Linked DNA regions of Homo sapiens. The protein of the gene in region 2 interacts with the protein of the main gene of each other region in a pairwise test. Each region holds a gene or a part of one and is shown on either strand. Other genes may lie near its edges.

Region 1 (9,183 bases), on a different chromosome or scaffold from region 2:
CCCCCACACCAGCCTTCCCTCCTGACTTCAAAATCCTGCCTTCCAGTGGCCCCAGTTTACCCTCCCTGTGGGGCACTAAGGGTCTTTCTCTTTCCCTCCCTCCTCCTCAGGGGATGACTCCAGCAGAGCACCTCACTCCTTTGAAGAGCACAGAGGAAGATGTCAGCCCAGTCCCTTCCTGCAGCAACACCCCCCACGCAGAAGCCCCCTCGGATCATCCGCCCCCGCCCTCCTTCTCGTTCCAGGGCTGCCCAGTCCCCAGGGCCTCCCCACAATGGCTCCTCTCCACAAGAACTACCCCGAAACTCCAATGATGCACCAACCCCAATGTGCACCCCCATCTTCTGGGAGCCCCCAGCTGCATCCCTCAAGCCCCCTGCTCTTTTGCCCCCCTCAGCTTCTAGAGCCAGCCTCGACTCCCAGACTTCCCCAGACTCACCTTCCAGCACCCCCACACCTAGTCCAGTGTCCCGGCGCTCCGCCTCCCCAGAACCTGCTCCCCGGTCTCCAGTCCCCCCACCCAAGCCGTCTGGGTCACCCTGCACGCCTCTGCTCCCCATGGCTGGAGTCCTGGCTCAGAATGGCTCTGCCTCAGCTCCTGGCACTGTGCGGAGGCTGGCTGGCAGGTTTGAAGGGGGTGCTGAAGGCCGGGCTCAGGATGCAGATGCCCCGGAGCCAGGTCTCCAAGCGAGAGCAGATGTGAATGGGGAGAGAGAAGCTCCCCTCACCGGGAGTGGGTCCCAGGAGAACGGTGCTCCAGGTGAGTGTGGCGGGTGGGGGGCGCTGGGTGACCTCAATCCACCCATCTTCTCCGTTTTCAGTGCTAACAACTTTCAGGGGCTACCTTTTCAAAAATGGAGTTAATGTTTGGGATATCTGGTTTCTGTATGTCGGGATTTGAAGGGAGTCAGGGTGGAGGAGATCTATAGATGCCTGGACCTTGATATTGCAGTTGCTGGGCAGGTTAAAGATGGAGATGGTCTGGGCGGGGGTGGAGCTGGGCCCCAAGGGCTTTCTCCTTAGGCTACCTGTCTCCCACAGATGCTGGCCTGGCCTGCCCTCCCTGCTGCCCCTGTGTCTGCCACACCACCCGGCCTGGCCTGGAGCTCAGATGGGTGCCTGTGGGGGGCTATGAGGAGGTCCCCAGGGTCCCCCGTCGGGCCTCCCCGCTGCGGACCTCTCGCTCCCGCCCCCACCCTCCAAGCATCGGTCACCCTGCCGTTGTCCTCACATCCTACCGCTCCACTGCTGAGCGCAAACTCCTGCCACTCCTCAAGCCTCCCAAACCAACTCGTGTCAGGCAGGATGCCACCATTTTCGGGGACCCCCCACAGCCAGATCTTGATCTGCTTTCTGAAGATGGAATCCAAACAGGTGCAGGGCCTGGGGGAGTGGACCTCTGGGCTGTGAGGGGACAGGAGAGAGGCAGGGGGGAACTAAAGCCCAGCAAACTACAATCCCCAACAGGCACTGGGCTCTTTGCTTCCCCACCAGCTGCTGCTCTGGTGCTGAAGAGAGTTGCAGTTTTTATAGTAACCATCCCTGCTGGGGCTGGAGTCGGGAGTCCTGGCTGGGGATCCTGGAGTTTTTTTTTCTCTTCACTCTGGCTTCTCTCTCCAGGGGACAGTCCTGATGAAGCTCCTCAGAATACTCCTCCAGCAACTGTGGAGGGGAGGTACTGAACACCCCCACCCCTACTCCCTGGTTCTCTCCCCACCATGCTTCTACCTGAGGGCAGACTAACCTTCAGCTCCAGCTAAATCCCACCTCCACAAAGGTGAGGGGACAAGGGCCAGGGCTCTAGAGATAAGCAGCCCTTGTTTCGAATCCCAGCTCTGGCCCTTATCAATTCTGTGATCTTATAGAAGGCCGGGCACGGTGGCTTACATCTGTAATCCCAGCACTCTGGGAGGCCGCGGCAGAAGGATCACCTGAAGTCAGGAGTTCAAGATCAGCCTGGCTAACGTGGTGAAACCCTGTCTCTACTAAAAATACAAAAATTAGCCGGGCATGGTGACGGGTGCCTGTAATCCCAGCTACTCGGGAGGCTGAGGCAGGAGAATGGCTTGGACCCAGGGAGATGGAGGTTGCAGGGAGCCAAGAGCGTGCCACTGCACTCCAGCCTGGTCGACAAGAGAGAAACTCCATCTCAAAAAAAAAAAAAATCTGTAGCCTTCCTGGGTCTCAGTGTCCTCATCTGTGAAATGGGGCTAAGCATAGGAACCACCTCATGGAATCGTGGGGATATGATATTGTGAAGAGCCGGGTCCAGAGTAAGTGAGTGCACCATTTTAACTCCCTTCCCTCACCTTGAGCTTCTATTGCAATTATTGTCCGAAAATCTATTTGGCAATCATGACCATCTCTTCTATGCTATCCAGGATTGTTAATTATCTTAGATTCACCATTGTTATCAGAAGTTATCTGTGTCCATTCATTTATTCAACAAACATTTACTAGTGTGGTTTTTAGCTTGGGCGAATGGGGGTGTGGTGGTGCTGATGACCACAGCAGGGGAGATAAGGGGCTGCAGGTGCTGGTGGGAGGTGTGAGAGTTTGCAGTCCATCACGTTGAGCTTCCTTGACACACAAATAGGGCGTTCCAGACAATGGTTGCTACGTGAGACGGCTGACAAGGAGACTCAGAAATCTCTGGTCTGCAATAGTTGACATAAGAATGGGGCCCACTTAGTTCAGGGGCTCCTCTCTAAAAGGCACATAAAAAGATCTGGAATTTGGGCCGGGCAAAGTAGGTTACGCCTGTAATCCTGACACTTTGTGAGGCCAAGGTGGCAGGATTGCTTGAGACCAGGAGTTTAAGACCAGCCTGGGCAACATAACGAGACCTTGCCTTTCCCCTTCAAAAAAAAAAAAAAAAAAAAAGCCTGAGGTTTGATTTGGGGAGCCGTCAGGGTCCCTACATCCAACCTGCACATGGGTTGCCCTGTCCAGCATGAGAACAAGCACCCCTACGGTGGGCAGCAGTGGTGGCCCTGGGGACTTCCTTCCCTTTCTTTCTCCACAGGGAAGAGGAGGGGCTAGAGGTGCTGAAGGAGCAGAATTGGGAGCTGCCCCTGCAGGATGGTGAGGGCCTCTGGACCTGAGGGTCCCTGCTGTGACCATCAAGCAGTGGGGAAGGGTTTGGGAGCCCTGGGCTTCCCTGAAGTGCTATGTTTGCCCTCTAGAACCTCTGTACCAGACCTACCGAGCAGCCGTGCTGTCAGAGGAGCTGTGGGGGGTGGGTGAGGATGGGAGTCCTTCTCCAGCAAATGCTGGAGATGCACCCACCTTCCCACGACCCCCTGGACCTCGCAACACCCTGTGGCAGGAGCTTCCGGCTGTGCAAGCCAGCGGTCTTCTGGATACCCTCAGCCCCCAGGAGAGGCGCATGCAGGAGGTGGGAGCTGGAGGTGGGAGATGGGAGGGGGGTGCTGGGGTTGGGCTGCATGGGTCAGGCATAGGGGAGGAGGGCCCAGGGTCCTAGCTTCCCACGGTGAACTGGGCTTCCCACGACTGCCTGCTTTTCTTTCTAGAGTCTTTTCGAGGTGGTGACGTCCGAGGCTTCCTACCTGCGCTCCCTGCGGCTGCTGACCGACACCTTCGTGCTGAGCCAGGCACTCCGGGACACGCTCACCCCCCGTGATCACCACACACTCTTCTCCAATGTGCAGCGAGTCCAGGGAGTCAGCGAGCGGTCAGTGGCTTTCCGTCCTTCCAGGGAACCTGCCCTTAGGCTGCTGGGCACGCCCTTTCCTCTCTCCCGGGCCCAGGTCCTTCCTTCTACGGACCCAGTTAGTTCCCAAACCTTCTCTCAAGAACCCGGGAGACCTGGCTCTCTGCCCCGCCCCATTGCTTGCTTCCCCAATTCCTTCAGGTTTCTAGCAACGCTCCTGTCCCGTGTGCGCTCTTCCCCCCACATCAGCGACTTGTGTGATGTGGTGCATGCCCACGCTGTGGGGCCTTTCTCGGTGTATGTGGATTATGTGCGGAACCAGCAGTATCAGGAGGAGACCTACAGCCGCCTCATGTGAGTGTCCCAGGGGTGGGGAGGAAGCTGGGGAGAGGGATGGGACCGAGGCCACAGCAGGTTGGGGCACCAGGGCCTCCAGGCAGCCGCTAGCCATGCCTGCTTCTGCAGGGACACCAACGTGCGCTTCTCCGCCGAGCTGCGCCGGCTGCAGAGCCTCCCTAAGTGTGAGCGGCTCCCGCTGCCGTCCTTCCTGCTACTGCCCTTCCAGCGCATCACCCGGCTGCGCATGCTGCTGCAGGTACCTGTCCCAGCTGCGGCCGTTTCTGCCCCACCAACCCCATCGGAGAACTCTCCCGAGGGCTTCTTGGCCCTCCAGCTATCACCATGCACTACTCCACCTTAAACATAAAATCCCCCAAATCATAACTCCGAATCTGGGTCTCTCAGCCTAGGACTCACCAAGTCCTACCTTAGGGGCCCTGTGCTCTTCCCCTTACCTGGACTGCCTCTAGGTCCAGGTGCAGGGAAAGGCCCTCTGGCTGGAGACATGAGTTCCACACCTAGCTCTGCCACTGACTCTCTGAGTGACCTTAGGCAAGTCCCTTCTGCTCGCTGGGTCTCAGGGGGAGTGTGTGAGCGGTTTTTGAGGTTGTCTCTGGCTATATTCTTCTACCCACATGCCTTCCCAGCTGGGGTGGTATCACCCCCAAGGGGGCAAAAATTGGTTCTTTGGGGGTGAAAATAATCTTAGTTATTCCAACAGTTGTACTCCATTAAGCTTTAGTGCATAAACAGAGTTCCAGTAGATCTGTAGAATTAAACTTTCATGGTGAGGGAGATGTTTAGGGAAAATTATCTTAAAAAGGCAACTTAGTGGGGTGATACGGGGGAAAAAAAAGTTTGAGATTTGAGACACTTTCTTCCTCCTCCTCCTCCTCTTCTCCATCTCCTTCTTCGAGACGGAGTCTCACTCCCAGGCTGGAGTACAGTGGCGCAATATCGGCTCACTGCAACCTCTGCCTCCCGGGTTCAAGCGATTCTCCTGCCTCAGCCTCCTGAGTAGCTGGGATTACAGGTGTGGACTACCATGCCTGGCTAATTTTTGTATTATTAGTAGAGATGGGGTTTCACCATGTTGGCCAGGCTGCTATCGAACTCCTGACCTCATGTAGTCCACCTGCCTCAGTCACCCAAAGTGCTGGCATTACAGGCGTGAGCCACTGCACCCGGCCTAAGACACTCTCTTCTATAGCAAAGCAGAGAGTCCTTTCTAACCAGGTCTCCCAATATGGGGATCTTTAGAGCACTGGCACGATCACGGCTCACTGCAGCCTCAAATTCCTGGGCTCAAGGGATCCTTGTGCCTCAGCCTCTAGAGTAGCTGGGACTACAATGCCACCATGCCCGGCTATTTATTAATTTTTATTTTTATAGAGACAGGGTCTCACTATGTTGGCCAGGCTGGTCTTGAACTCCCGGCCTCAAGCAATCCTCCTATCTCAGCTTCTCAAAGCTCTAGCATTATAGGTGTGAGCTACTGAGCCCAGTGAATGAGGGGATCTTTATGTGAAGAGTTCCCAACTAGATTATCAGTGTCTTTATGATCTTATTCAGCTTTATCTATCCCCATTGTAGACAACAAAATAATAATAATGATACTAATCAAAATAGCTCAACAGCTATTAAGCTTTCTAGGAATGGTTCTAAGTGCTATACACCTGTGTAACCTTACCTGCAACTATGTGAGGGTAGGAACTATTACTTGTCCTACTTTAGACATGAGAAAGCTAAGGCACAGGTCACATAACTTGCCTCAGGTCATACAGAAATAATTGATGGAGACAAAATTGTAATCTAAGCACTCTTAGCTACTCTGCTATATTGCCTGCACTAACAGTTTTGGTTAATAATTATTAAAATAATAGGAACCTTCGGGGCAGGCACGGTGGCTCATGCCTGTAATCCCAGCACTTTGGGAGGCCGAGGCGGGTGGATCATCTGAGGTCAGGAGTTCAAGACCAGCCTGGCCAACATGGTGAAACCCCGCTTCTACTAAAAATACAAAAAAATTAGTCGGGCGTGGTGGCACACGTCTGTAATCCCAGCTACTTGGGAGGCTGAGGCAGGAGAATCACTTGAACCCGGGAGGCAGAGGTTGCAGTGAGCCGAGATCGCACCCCTGCACTCCAGCCTGGGTGACAGAGCCAGACTCCGGAAGAAAAAAAAATAAGAACCTTCTTTTCAACATTTAATATGTGCCAAGAACTATGCTAAGCACTTTACATATATTGCCTTCTTGAATCCTCAAAACAATGCTATTGATATGCTAGGTGGGTATTAGCCCCATTTTACAGATAGGGAAGCTGAGGCTCAGAGAGGTAACAGGACTTGCTCAGGGTTCTGCAGATGGTGAGTGATGAGGTCTGTCAGCCTTGTTGAAACTGGCTGAAACAGACAGGGTCCTCTGAGCTGTGGCCCCTCTGAATCCCAGGGCCACAGAGCAGGGGGCCCAGTCACCCTTCCTCCTTGTCCCCAGAATATCCTGCGCCAGACAGAAGAGGGGTCCAGCCGTCAGGAGAATGCCCAGAAGGCCCTGGGTGCTGTCAGCAAGGTGGGCAGTGGGGAAGCTGAAGCAGGGGGAGGTGACAAGGTGGTAGAGAGAAATGGTAGGGAGCAGGGGGCTGGCCGCTGGGGTGGTGACACAGCTCCCCTTACCTAGATCATCGAGCGTTGCAGCGCTGAGGTGGGGCGCATGAAGCAGACTGAAGAGCTGATCCGGCTCACCCAAAGGCTGCGCTTCCACAAAGTCAAGGTACATCGCTGCCCAGGCTCCCCATCTTGCCCTGCCCCATGTTGCTGCTGCCACGCTAGAACCTCCTCTGCCTCCGCTTCCTCGCAGGCCCTGCCCCTGGTCTCCTGGTCACGGCGCCTGGAATTCCAGGGAGAGCTGACTGAGTTAGGGTGCCGGAGGGGGGGCGTGCTCTTTGCCTCGCGCCCCCGCTTCACCCCTCTTTGCCTGCTGCTCTTTAGCGACCTGCTGCTCATCACTCAGCCTAAGAGGTGAGTCCTAGGGAAGGAAGGAGCCCAGGCTGGAGTGGGCAGGAGGGGTCCAGCGGGACCCCTGCTGTCCTTCTGAACGACCTCATCCCTGGGCAGTGGGCAGCGGTTACAGGTTCTGGACTATGCCCATCGCTCCCTGGTCCAGGCCCAGCAGGTTCCGGATCCATCTGGACCCCCTACCTTCCGCCTCTCCCTTCTCAGCAACCACCAGGGCCGCCCCACCCACCGACTACTCCAAGCTTCTTCCCTGTGAGTTGTGTTTCCCTCAGAAAACAACCTTGGGACACTTATCTGACCTCTCAGACCTCCCCCACTTCCCCAGTCTCTCTCTTCTGTGGCTCCTGCCTCAGCCCCAGAGGATCTTTTGGGCCAACTGTGACACTTCCCAATATCCCCACCAGATCAGACATGCAGCGCTGGCTGGGAGCCTTCCCAACCCCAGGCCCCCTTCCCTGCTCCCCAGACACCATCTATGAGGACTGTGGTGAGTATCCCCCTAGAGGGGATGAGGGAAGAAAAAGCGAGTCTTAGAGGAATATGGGGGAGAAGCTAAACAGAATCACTTTAATGTCACCCACCCCCAACCAGACTGTTCCCAGGAACTGTGTTCAGAGTCGTCTGCACCTGCCAAGACTGAAGGACGGAGTCTGGAGTCCAGGGCTGCCCCCAAACACCTGCACAAGACCCCTGAAGGTGAGAAAGTCTTTCATTTATTTATTTTGTATTTATTATTATTATTTTTTGAGACAGAGTCTCATTCTGTCAGCCAGGCTAGAGTGCAGTGGTGTGAGCTCGGCTCACTGCAACCTCTGCCTCCTGGGTTCAAGGGATTCTCCTGCCTCAACCTCCCAAGTAGCTGAGATTACAGGTGCCCACCACCACGTCTGGCTAATTTTTGTATTTTTAGTAGAGATGGGGTTTCACCATGTTGGCCAGGCTGGTCTCGAACTAACCTCAGGTGATCCGTCCCCTTTCACCTCCCAAAGTGCTGGGATTACAGGCATGAGCCTCTGGTGCCAGGCCTTATTTCTATTCTTTTTTTTTTTTAATGGAGGTGGGGGGTCTCACTATGTTGCTCAGGCTGGTCTTGAACTCCCGAGCTCAAGTGATCCTCCTGCCTCAGGCTCCCAAAGTGCTGGGATTACAGGCGTGAGCCACTGCGCCTGGCCGTGTTTCATTTATTCATTCAATAAATATTTATTAAGCACCTACAAAGTGCCACTCGCTGTTCTAGGGACTGTGAATCAAATATATCACACTTCCTTCCTTGCTGGAGCTACGTTCTAGCAGAGGAGGCAGACGATAAAGAATGAGCAAAATAGATAAGTAAATTATAAAGTACATGTGAAGGTTATGAGTGTTATGGAAAAAAAAAAAAGTGAGCAGAGCAAAGAAGGTCAGGAGTTCCAGGGTTGGGCAGACTGAAATTTTCAATAGGGAGGCCGAGGTGGACCTCACTGAGAAGGCAACATGAAGCTTGATGGAGCTAATTTAGGCCCATGGTGTCTGGGGGAAGAGTGTCCCAGCTGGAGGCAGCAGGCAGTGCAAAGGCCCTGCGGCTGGTGTGTGACTGAGGAACTGTAAGGAGGCCAGTGTGACTAGCAGGAGAGAGAAAGGGGGAGAAGCAAATGAGGTCATAGAAGTGGCAGGGATGGGATCACGCAGGACCTGACAGGTCTCTGCAAGGACTCCACCTCTTACTCCAAGAGACATGAGCAGCCACTGCAGGGCTTGACGGAAGAGCAGCCCAGACTCTCTCCGAGCTGCTGTCACCTCCACTTCTGATGCCCTTTCTACCGATGCTCCAGGCTTGTCCATGAATTCCCACACCTACAATGACCCTGAAGGCCTGAGACCCCACGAGGCCCCCTTTGCCTCCTCACCTGCTCCCTGCCCCCACCTCATTGGAGCCTCTGTCTCTCTTCCCCCAGGTTGGCTGAAGGGGCTTCCTGGGGCCTTCCCTGCCCAGCTGGTGTGTGAAGTCACAGGGGAACACGAAAGGAGGAGGCACCTTCGCCAGAACCAGAGGCTTCTCGAGGCTGTTGGATCTTCTTCAGGCACCCCCAATGCCCCCCCACCCTAATGCAGGCTGAGGAGGGGGCACATGTTGGGAGACACCTACCAGTGTGGCACGGAGAGAACAAAGCCCATTC
Region 2 (9,183 bases):
CCCAGCCAAAAAAAAAACACTACTCTTACTTTTCTAAGTGTCTTTGGGCGTACTTTTCTAAGCTTTGGTACCCTCCAAAAGTTCAAAAATAAAAGAGTAGCAATTACCGAGAATGAAGACTATGATTCACATGAAGTTCTGTACTCAACAGTGCATGCAGTGTACACTCTAGGGTTCATTCCAGTGCATATTTTCTTATTTCTCTCTTCCCACTGACATAATGAGTTGTCAACACAGGCTTAGCAAAATGGTACCTGTCACTTTCAGATGTTTAATATTTCTCTGTGAAGGATATGGTGACACTCTGTCAAACCAGCACAAATCTAATCTAAGGCTATCTTCTCTTACTCGCTTTAATACAAAACGTGTTACTTAGTCACCAGTGAATTAGGTAACGTAGGTATTAGGAAGATACAAGTGTGGAGCTGTGCTTCCTTTTACAGCATGTTTGCCAGCCACCTGTAGGCATGGTAGCTTATGACCAACCCACCCTATTTTCCATCTGTAGCAATTACTCCAGAGGAGCAAAACTTAGATTTTGCATTTTTCTTTTTTGTCCTGGCCATATTTTCTTCTTTCTTTTCAGTCCAAACTTAGAAGCATTGTCAAAACCATAATTTACTGATAAAACTGGACCATTAAGATGATGTACAGTATATCCAGAAGATATGTTTTTTCCTCACATTATCTCCTTATTCCTTGGCCAAGATCTGGTGAAAGCTTGATATTACCATAATACAATTGTTTCTGAAAATAGTCCAAGTATTCTGCTTAACTAGAGTGTATTTGTCATCATTGACATTCAATCCAATTAACCAAATTAAACTGACTGGATGATACTATAATTACCTCATGTTCAAAGAAGTACAATGTTACTTCTTAACAGTAGGTAGGGTCTAAAAGTGAGAAAATGACACTAAATATTAGAAGGTCAATAACATTAGATCTGTTTTTTGATGCATATTATAATCACATAAAAATAATGTAAGGTATTTACTCATGTTTTATGCCCAGCCAAAGCATAAGTAAATAGCTTACATTATTTTCTCTCCACCTCTATGTAGAAGTGAATTAAATTACATCTATCTTAAAGCAAATCTGAAGTTTAATTTACATTTATGATCTTTAGAAAGGCAAAAGTAATTAACATTATTTTATTTTTGATGCAGGTGAAAGTAGTATATCTTGGTAGTAAATTGTCACTAATTTCTTCTTTTTATATGAACTCCCATCCTTTCATAGGTTGGAATAAAAGAATGCAAAGACACAGATATTTTCCCAGTGTCCTACCACCAACTTCTGCCTATCATTCTGCTTCTAACTGCTAAGTCATAATAATTAAACACATGTTTTTGGTCATGTTTTTCATTGTTTCTAATTCCTCTTATCCCTCCCCAATTACGCGCAATAACCAAATGCACTCCATGAAGCTGGATTCATAATGAAAGTGTTTACTTTACTTATGATTAACTTCCCTGCATAATTAATGTCCCCAATCCTCCGGGTAGCCTTATTACATCTATTCTGTTTTAACATACTATCTGTCAGCTGAATACATTTTCATATTTTAGGAGTGGGGAAAAGACAGAAAAGCTCCTTGCTGACTCCGATTCTAAGATTATTTTTATCAAAAAGTATTTGCAATTATATTAGCTATTTTCATTGCTTATATAAAGTGCTATATTGGCTGATCCTCACCTGAGAAGGTAATGATTAAATTACAAATGTAAATAGGCTCCTAGCAGAGACCATTAGCAACACCTTGAGGACTTTGTAACAAGGATCTAAGGGGACAGAGGGCAGGAAAGACACACAGAGCTGGCAATAGGGGCAGCAGTGAGGTCTGACCACAGGGTTTAGGAATTCTCATTTCCCCTGGAAGTCTTCATGAGGGACACACCAAGATCTTTTATTGCAGGTGTCGTCTCCGACCTCTCAACTGCCAGCAATGCCCAGATCTGTCCACTTAAACCAAGCCTCCTGGAAAGGGGGCTGAAAGGTTGATGTGCTAGTTCTGCTTTCTCTGAAGTCTCCTCGGAAAGTACTCCTCAGCCTGAGCTCACGCTGTTTGCCTTAAAAGGATAAAATATCTGTAGGAAAAAAAAAAAAAACTGTAGCTGGCTGCAGAGACATCACATACCAAGAGAGACGCTACAAGCCCAGGACTGCTCTTCCAAGAGGCGCTCATCATTGTTTCACCTTCAACTTAGCATTGGATAGCAGGAGCTGGGACCCAAAGAAACTATCTGGCCACAGAGGCAGCTGCCCTCAGCAAGAATTTAAAAACAAAACAAACAAACAAAAAACTTGGGATGAAAGCTGATCCTAATGTGTGTCACATTTGAAAGTGGCCAGGAACCCTGGCTGGCAGGAAAGGGGAAACAAACTTACCCACTGAACAGAGCTGCTGCCACTTTTGTGTGCCCCAGGTCCTTAACAGGTAACCCCAGAGATTAAAGTGATGCTGATAGGTTCAGATGCTAGGGAGATTGGGGAGCTGAAGCTGCCTGGCTCCACTGCAAGCCAGGGACTTGGGTTGCTCAAAAAGAAACAAGAAAGGTGCTTCCCCAAAGAATAGGAATTCAAGTAGTCTGTAACAATCAACAATGAATGGGTCATAGCAGAGGTTTCTCAACCCTGGCTGAATATTATAATCACTTTGGGAGTAAAAATAATATACCTATACCTCAGGTCTACCCCAGAGCAATTAAATCATAGGCTCTGGAGGTGGTGCCCAGCAAATGTATGTTTTAAAGCTCCCTAGGTGATTGTAACATACAGCTATGTTTGAGAACCAATGGGCTAGGTAGGGAAATGATCACTTGTTTAGGAGAATAAACAAGAAGGCATCAACTAAACTACACGTACAATTTGTCTACACGTACAATTTGGCAAAAAAAAAAATCCAGCTATGCTTTCGCAGGCCCCTAGTGCTTAAAGGTTTTAGCCAATAGAGACATTCAACTCTTTAGATGAACACTTTATCCTGGTCTTTTGTTTAATATCACACACAAATGTACACACACAACAAACACACACACTCCTCTTGTCATCTTCCTATTAGAGTGGTTATCAAATTTTGCTACACGTTAAAGTTACATGGAGAATCATCAAAAATTACTGATATGTAGCTTCCAACACCCGGACATTCTGATTTTAATTGGTTTGTGGTACAATCTAGGAATTGGATTTTTATGTTCCCCATGTGATTCTAATGCGCAGGAAAGTTTGGGAACCGCCGTCCTACATTATTTCTTCCACTAGTCCCAGAGTCCTTCTGCTTCCTATTTAATTATTGGTGAACAGATACACCCCAGAGAATGACCTATATGTTATTCATAAAGTTTTCCTGCAGCTACCTAATCCCCATGACCCTTTGGGCAGTAAGAGAGCCTAGTGGCTAAGGAGAAAAGCTCTGGAGCTCAAATTCAGGCTCAACCTAGTGTGACTGTGGGCAAGTTGCTTCACTTCTCTGCGCCCCAGAGTTCTTTTTCTCATGCTGTGAAATTGGGATAATCCAGAATCTTCCTCATAGGGTTGTTTTTGTCCTAAAAAAAAGATGATCAGGTGGGGTGCGGTGGCTTACATATGTATTCCCAGCACTTTCTTTGGAGGCCCAGATGCTGGAGAATCATTTGAGGCCAGAAGTTCAAGACCAGCCTGTGCAACTGAGACCCTGTCTCTACAGAAAAAAATTAAAAATTATCCAGGTGTGGTGCTATGTGCCTATAATCTTGGCTACTCTGGAGGCTGAGGCAAGAGGATCACTTGAGCCCAGGAGTTTGAAGCTGCAGTGAGCTATGGCTGTGTCACTGCACTCCAGCCTGGGCAATAAGACAGAAAGAACCTGTCTCAATCAATCAATCAATCATTCAATCAATGAAAGAGACAATCTATATAAAGCACAGGAGCAGTGCCTGGCACAGAGTTAGTGCTCCATAAATGTTACCCAATCTGATGATGATGAGCAGTGTAATTCTTGATGCTTTCATTCAGAAGCAGGATGCACTGAGTTGTTGCCCTTATTCTTGTCCTCTGCACTGTTGGCTGCACAAACACCACCAAGTCCTCAATGATGTCAAATTAAGGAGCATTTCAAAGGGACAATACAATGCATTCAAAACAAGCACTGGTCTAATGGGAAACTATCTTCAGTATAGCTCCCTAAGAAGGCAAGCCTTCGATATACTCTAATTTGGGTGTCTCTTCTCTATGGCAGTCTTCATCCATAAAGTACTATCTTACTTGCAAGCTCTTTTCCAGTCTTGTCACCTATTTACTTGCACACAAAGCCTATCACTATTTTCCAACTTCCTTGCAAATATGGCATAGTTTTACCAATACCCATCTCGTTTCGCCCTTTCTTGTTCCCTCGATATGCATTTCTTCTTCTCACTCTACTCTCCAGCTTTTTTCATTGCTTATAAATTTCACGCTTAAAATATAGGCAGCCTCTAGAAGCTGAAAAAGACAAGATATGGAGTCTCCCCTAGAGCCTCCAGAAGGAATGCTTATATGAATTTTATAAGCAATGAAAAAAGCTGGAGAGTAGTATGCTTATAAAATTCATTCAGAAATAAGACAGTTTTGAGAGTGTACTATTAGTTCCACATTGTGTTAAACATCTGTTTTGTGTAGCTGAAGTTTTTGTGCTATTGTTTATATTTACAGGACAGTTTTGGAGGGAGAAAATTCCTCTGCTCTTACAAACAAAATTATCCTTAGAGAGTTCAAACAGGTTGCACATACTGAACTTCTCAGAAAATAAATTTTAAGGAAGTGCTGAGGAACACAGTCGTTACAGAAGATGGTGAGAGGGAAGCAGAACCGGTGTCAGAACTGAGTGTGAGGAAGCAGACAAGGGCTGTCGGGGAAGGGGTGGCAAACAGTACCAGCTCAACAATTCAGATTAGGATACAAAATGCCAAGGATGTGATTGCATAATAAGTTGTTGAGCATACTGGTAAATGCTGCTTTCAGCATGTGCTTATTTATCACATTGTCTTGCGTTCTCTGAGCTTGAAAGGTTCAAGTCAGAGGATCTGGAATGCTAGCAACAGACCCAGTTTCTTGGGATGGGCTGCAGCACCTATGGTAGAGATGGCAGAAAGAGCAGCAGCCTGGTGTTCGAATATGGTTGCTAGGATACCATGGAGACCCTCCATTGCTAGGCAGACAGAAAAAAAAATGTGTCCATATGCCTTATAACCTGCAAACAGCAACAATAGAAACATCATCTGTGTTCTTCTACCCTTTCCCATTAGGAATCCAGATAACAAGTAGCAGGAGCTTGGAAATGTGACCCAGTAGAGCAAGGAAGCTGGTAATTTATATTCTCAGGCAGGTAGTAGAGCCATTCTATTTAAGAGCTTACCAGTATCTTCATTATAAGACCCATTTTGGGGGCATGCAACTTGACTGTGCTTCAAAATACCCTAATAGGGTTTTAGCACGCTGGTCTCATACATTTTTATAAATGCTCCCGGGACTTCATTTCTACTGCATAAACTGTAATGTCAAATTAACAATCAACCTTAAATTAGAAACTCTATTAGAATAACATTAGGTTGGAATTTAACTCCTCCACAAAAACAAGAAAGATGACTTTCGAAAAACAACTTCAGGTTCAATTCTCATTGATGTTCAGTTTGCCTAGGTATGTGAGGAATCTGCAGTGCTAGTCTGTGGCATCAAGTTAGATTACTTTCAATGAGAACATTTGGAAGTGAGTGGAAAAAGGAACTTGGAACTTGGTTTCTTTAAGACTTCTAATCATCTGCTGTTTGCTTCAATTAACTACTCTTACCTAGTTATATAGTTACGACTATTAACAGGACTGTGATGGTGGGGGTAAGAAAGCTGAACTGATATTCTGGCATTCAGAACTGCATTAGTGGGTAACTATTAGTCCTTGGTGTAAAACACACACACACACACACACACACAAATGAGCCTTAGCTATTCTAAAACCCAAAAGAATGCCCTCTCGCCTACTTTATCAAATCATAGAAACCAAGATTCTCATTCTCACTGGCCTAAACTTGCTTTTCCACAGTTCCCACTACAGTACTTTAGCACAGCCACTAGTTGCTCCCAATTCCCAGAGGGGCCCTGCTTTCTTTTTCTGTGCTGTCACTTTGCTAATGGCTTGGAATGTATTTCCCCAATCCCTATCTCTATCCCTCCCTCTTTCCTCTCATTTCCACTCACCTAAATCATAGCCCTTCTTCAAATACTTACTTTAAACCCTTCTACTTCCACATGAGTTTCTGACACCATAAAACCAAACAGGCTTGATTATATTTTGCCAACTCTCTTAGTTATCTCCCCTGTGACTTACCTTACTCTATCTACTTTCTAGAATATTTACTTGTGCAGTATTGTTAACCCCTTGTTCACTCCTGGATGGTAGGACCTATGTAGCTCTTACCTCTAATGCCTTACAATATTTTGCATGTCACAGGCAATCCCATAGAAGTATTGAACTGAGATGTAGGGCACTTTTGGAATTAAATTTCTACCTTTCAAGCCATCTATGTTTTAATATTATGCCATCTATGATTACACTAGAATTCTAGAATTCTCTCAACTTCCAACAGAATTTAATATACAGTCTTTAGGAACATTTTGTTTTTCTTGAGATATATCAGTATAAAGTTTAAAAGATTAAATAATCTCTTAAAATGAATGCCTCCTTAAAAATAAAAATAGGCCGGGTGCGGTGGCTCACACCTGTAATCCCAGCATTTTGGGAGGCCAAGGCAGGCGGATCATGAGGTCAGGAGATCAAGACCATCCTGGTAACACTGTGAAACCCCGTCTCTACTGAAAATACAAAAAAATTAGCCGGGCGTGGTGGCTGGCGCCTGTAGTCCCAGCTACTCAGGAGGCTGAGGCAAGAGAATGGTGTGAACCCGGGAGGCAGAGCTTGCAGTGAGCTGAGATGGCACCACTGCACTCCAGCCTGGGCGATAGAGCGAGACTCCGTCTCAATAAATAAATAAATAAATAAATAAATAAATAAATAAATAAATATAAATAAATATTTTTATCCTCAACTCCTCCAAAGTACTTCGCAATGAAAAAGTGAAACAGGGGCCAGGTGTGGTGGCTCACATCTGTAATCTCAGCACTTTTGGAGGCCCAGGTGGGCTGATAACCTGAGTTCAGGAGTTCAAGATCAGCCTGGCCAAAATGGCGAAACCCCATCTCTACTAAAAAAAAAAAAAAAAAAAAAAAATAGCCAGGCATTGGTGGCACGTGCCTGTAATCCCAGCCACTCAGGAGGCTGCGATGGGAGAGTTGCTTGAACCCTGGAGGCGGAGGTTACAGTGAGCCAAGATCGTGCCACTGCACTCCATCCTGGGTGACAGAGTGAGACTCTGTCTCAACAACAACAACAAAGGAAAAAGAAAGGAAACAAAATAGAACATGGAGTGAAAGCAACAGCTTACAAAAATACAAAGACACTAACCACTTTTAGGAACTCAAGTCTATATAATCCAACTGAAATGACTGAAACCCTGTGACATGAAAATGGAAAAGATTTGGGAATATTTTCAAAAGATAAGGGGTTTAGATCAAAATTTCAGAGACTGAATGTTCTAACATGATATAGAATCAATTTCAGGAATGAAACTTCATGAAATAAAATTACTTAAGTCCATAAGAACTATTCTATATAGGCAATCAACAGGCTATCTGATCTCACATAATGAATGCTTAGGTTTTGTTTTTCATTTTAAGGGTTTATTTGCTCAGTTTATTTCCAAATATAGTTTAGTAGTTTTACATTCTCAAGGAGTTATTTGGTAGCAGTGGAATACAGATTCCAATTTGCTACATCAGTTCTTTCCTTCACATAAGTATTGTATCTATACAGATTGTGAAAGAGACCAATAAAAACCCTCCTCCTACCTCATAGTTATAGCAGGAGTGTCCTGGCTCAGTGCTGGAATCTGACAGAACCTTCCCTCCAATTCCCACATTAAAGGAAAAATTCCAAGCCAAAAATGTTAAAATGATTCAAGTTATTAAGTTAATTTACATTTTATACTATTTTTAAATGACCAAATTTACCAAGAAACCAGAACTAAAAAAAATTATAATCCTCAGAAGGCAACCTTAGTAAGTAAAAACTAAACAGATATATTTGCATATATCAGATAAATGAACAGAACATTAGCGGGGCAGTTACCTACATCTAAAAAAAAGAGAATCAAAAACTAGCATGAACGTAAACTGGAAATTAATGTGTCTATTTAGATAGTTTCATTTTAACTGGAAACTCACAATAATCTATATGTATGTTTAAGAAAGATGGCTACATTTAAGATGTAGTAAAGATGAAATACAAAGACACAAACACTTGTTGCCAGTAAGTCCGTGTAATCAAATTATTCATAGTGAAATACATTGAAAGGCAAACAAGTCTTCTTTGGTTTGGCAGGTTTTCTTAACTCTTTGTGGAGCTACCTTGTACAACCATTCAAACAACATAAGATTTATTCATTTTGCATACAATGTACTTCTTTTTTCCCTAAGAAAGGTACACTTTCTACTACTCAAGCCAATTTTTTTCTAGTTTTCTTTATGTAAGTGTGAAAAAAGAACAGATGTTTTTCCAAAATTATTTAAGCTTGGAAGGCATTCTATCATTTTCCTCAATAAAATACTTCAGAGTCACCCAAAGCATCATGGCAATACCTTAAGAGCTGAGTCCTTTAAAATACAAGTTATTAGTAAGAAATCAGTATCAGGACACACAGTGTTGTTTGATAGATAAAATGTTATTATAATGATAGATAAAATGTTATTATAATGGGATGCTGTAAATTATTTGCCACACCAGCTTTATTTTCCACTCTGGACCTTTTTCGTTTGTTTGTTTTTCAATCTAGATATTCTACAAGTCATGTACAAAGAGGCTTTTAAACTTATCACATTGTATAGCTCATTCCCTACTGCCTAGAATCTTGTAAATCTCTGATGGAATGTGTAACTGGAGTTATCAGCTGGCTTCAACATGCTTCACTATGAAACCTATTAAAGTGGTCTTTTTGTAAAAGCAGAGTTTGCTCTGTGTCACTCAAAAGTCCTGCGGATACAAAAATGAGATCCTATGAAATGTTTAAAGATGCAGAGAGCTGTCTTTGAGTTATTTTTTCATTATGCAAAACTTGG

Evidence for each region. The genes of interacting proteins can lie anywhere in the genome.
Region 1: the proteins of PRKG1 (region 2) and ARHGEF15 interact in binary tests that used the Homo sapiens proteins (3 or more experiments, as listed by UniProt).

Annotation. Positions count from the first base shown.
Region 1 is NC_000017.11:8,311,881-8,321,063, forward strand, and holds part of ARHGEF15 (rho guanine nucleotide exchange factor 15), read left to right. Parts: intron 1-110; 5' UTR 111-159; coding exon 160-760; intron 761-1,041; coding exon 1,042-1,374; intron 1,375-1,620; coding exon 1,621-1,675; intron 1,676-2,137; exon of another isoform or gene 2,138-2,273; intron 2,274-3,025; coding exon 3,026-3,084; intron 3,085-3,185; coding exon 3,186-3,397; intron 3,398-3,533; coding exon 3,534-3,694; intron 3,695-3,874; coding exon 3,875-4,027; intron 4,028-4,138; coding exon 4,139-4,268; intron 4,269-6,461; coding exon of another isoform or gene 6,462-6,506; coding exon 6,507-6,581; intron 6,582-6,689; coding exon 6,690-6,782; intron 6,783-6,869; coding exon 6,870-7,030; intron 7,031-7,126; coding exon 7,127-7,279; intron 7,280-7,431; coding exon 7,432-7,514; intron 7,515-7,618; coding exon 7,619-7,723; intron 7,724-8,961; coding exon 8,962-9,113; 3' UTR 9,114-9,183. UniProt on the Homo sapiens protein: Specific GEF for RhoA activation. Does not activate RAC1 or CDC42. Regulates vascular smooth muscle contractility. Negatively regulates excitatory synapse development by suppressing the synapse-promoting activity of EPHB2.
Region 2 is NC_000010.11:51,076,443-51,085,625, reverse strand, and holds part of PRKG1 (cGMP-dependent protein kinase 1), read right to left. Parts: intron 1-9,183. UniProt on the Homo sapiens protein: Serine/threonine protein kinase that acts as a key mediator of the nitric oxide (NO)/cGMP signaling pathway. GMP binding activates PRKG1, which phosphorylates serines and threonines on many cellular proteins.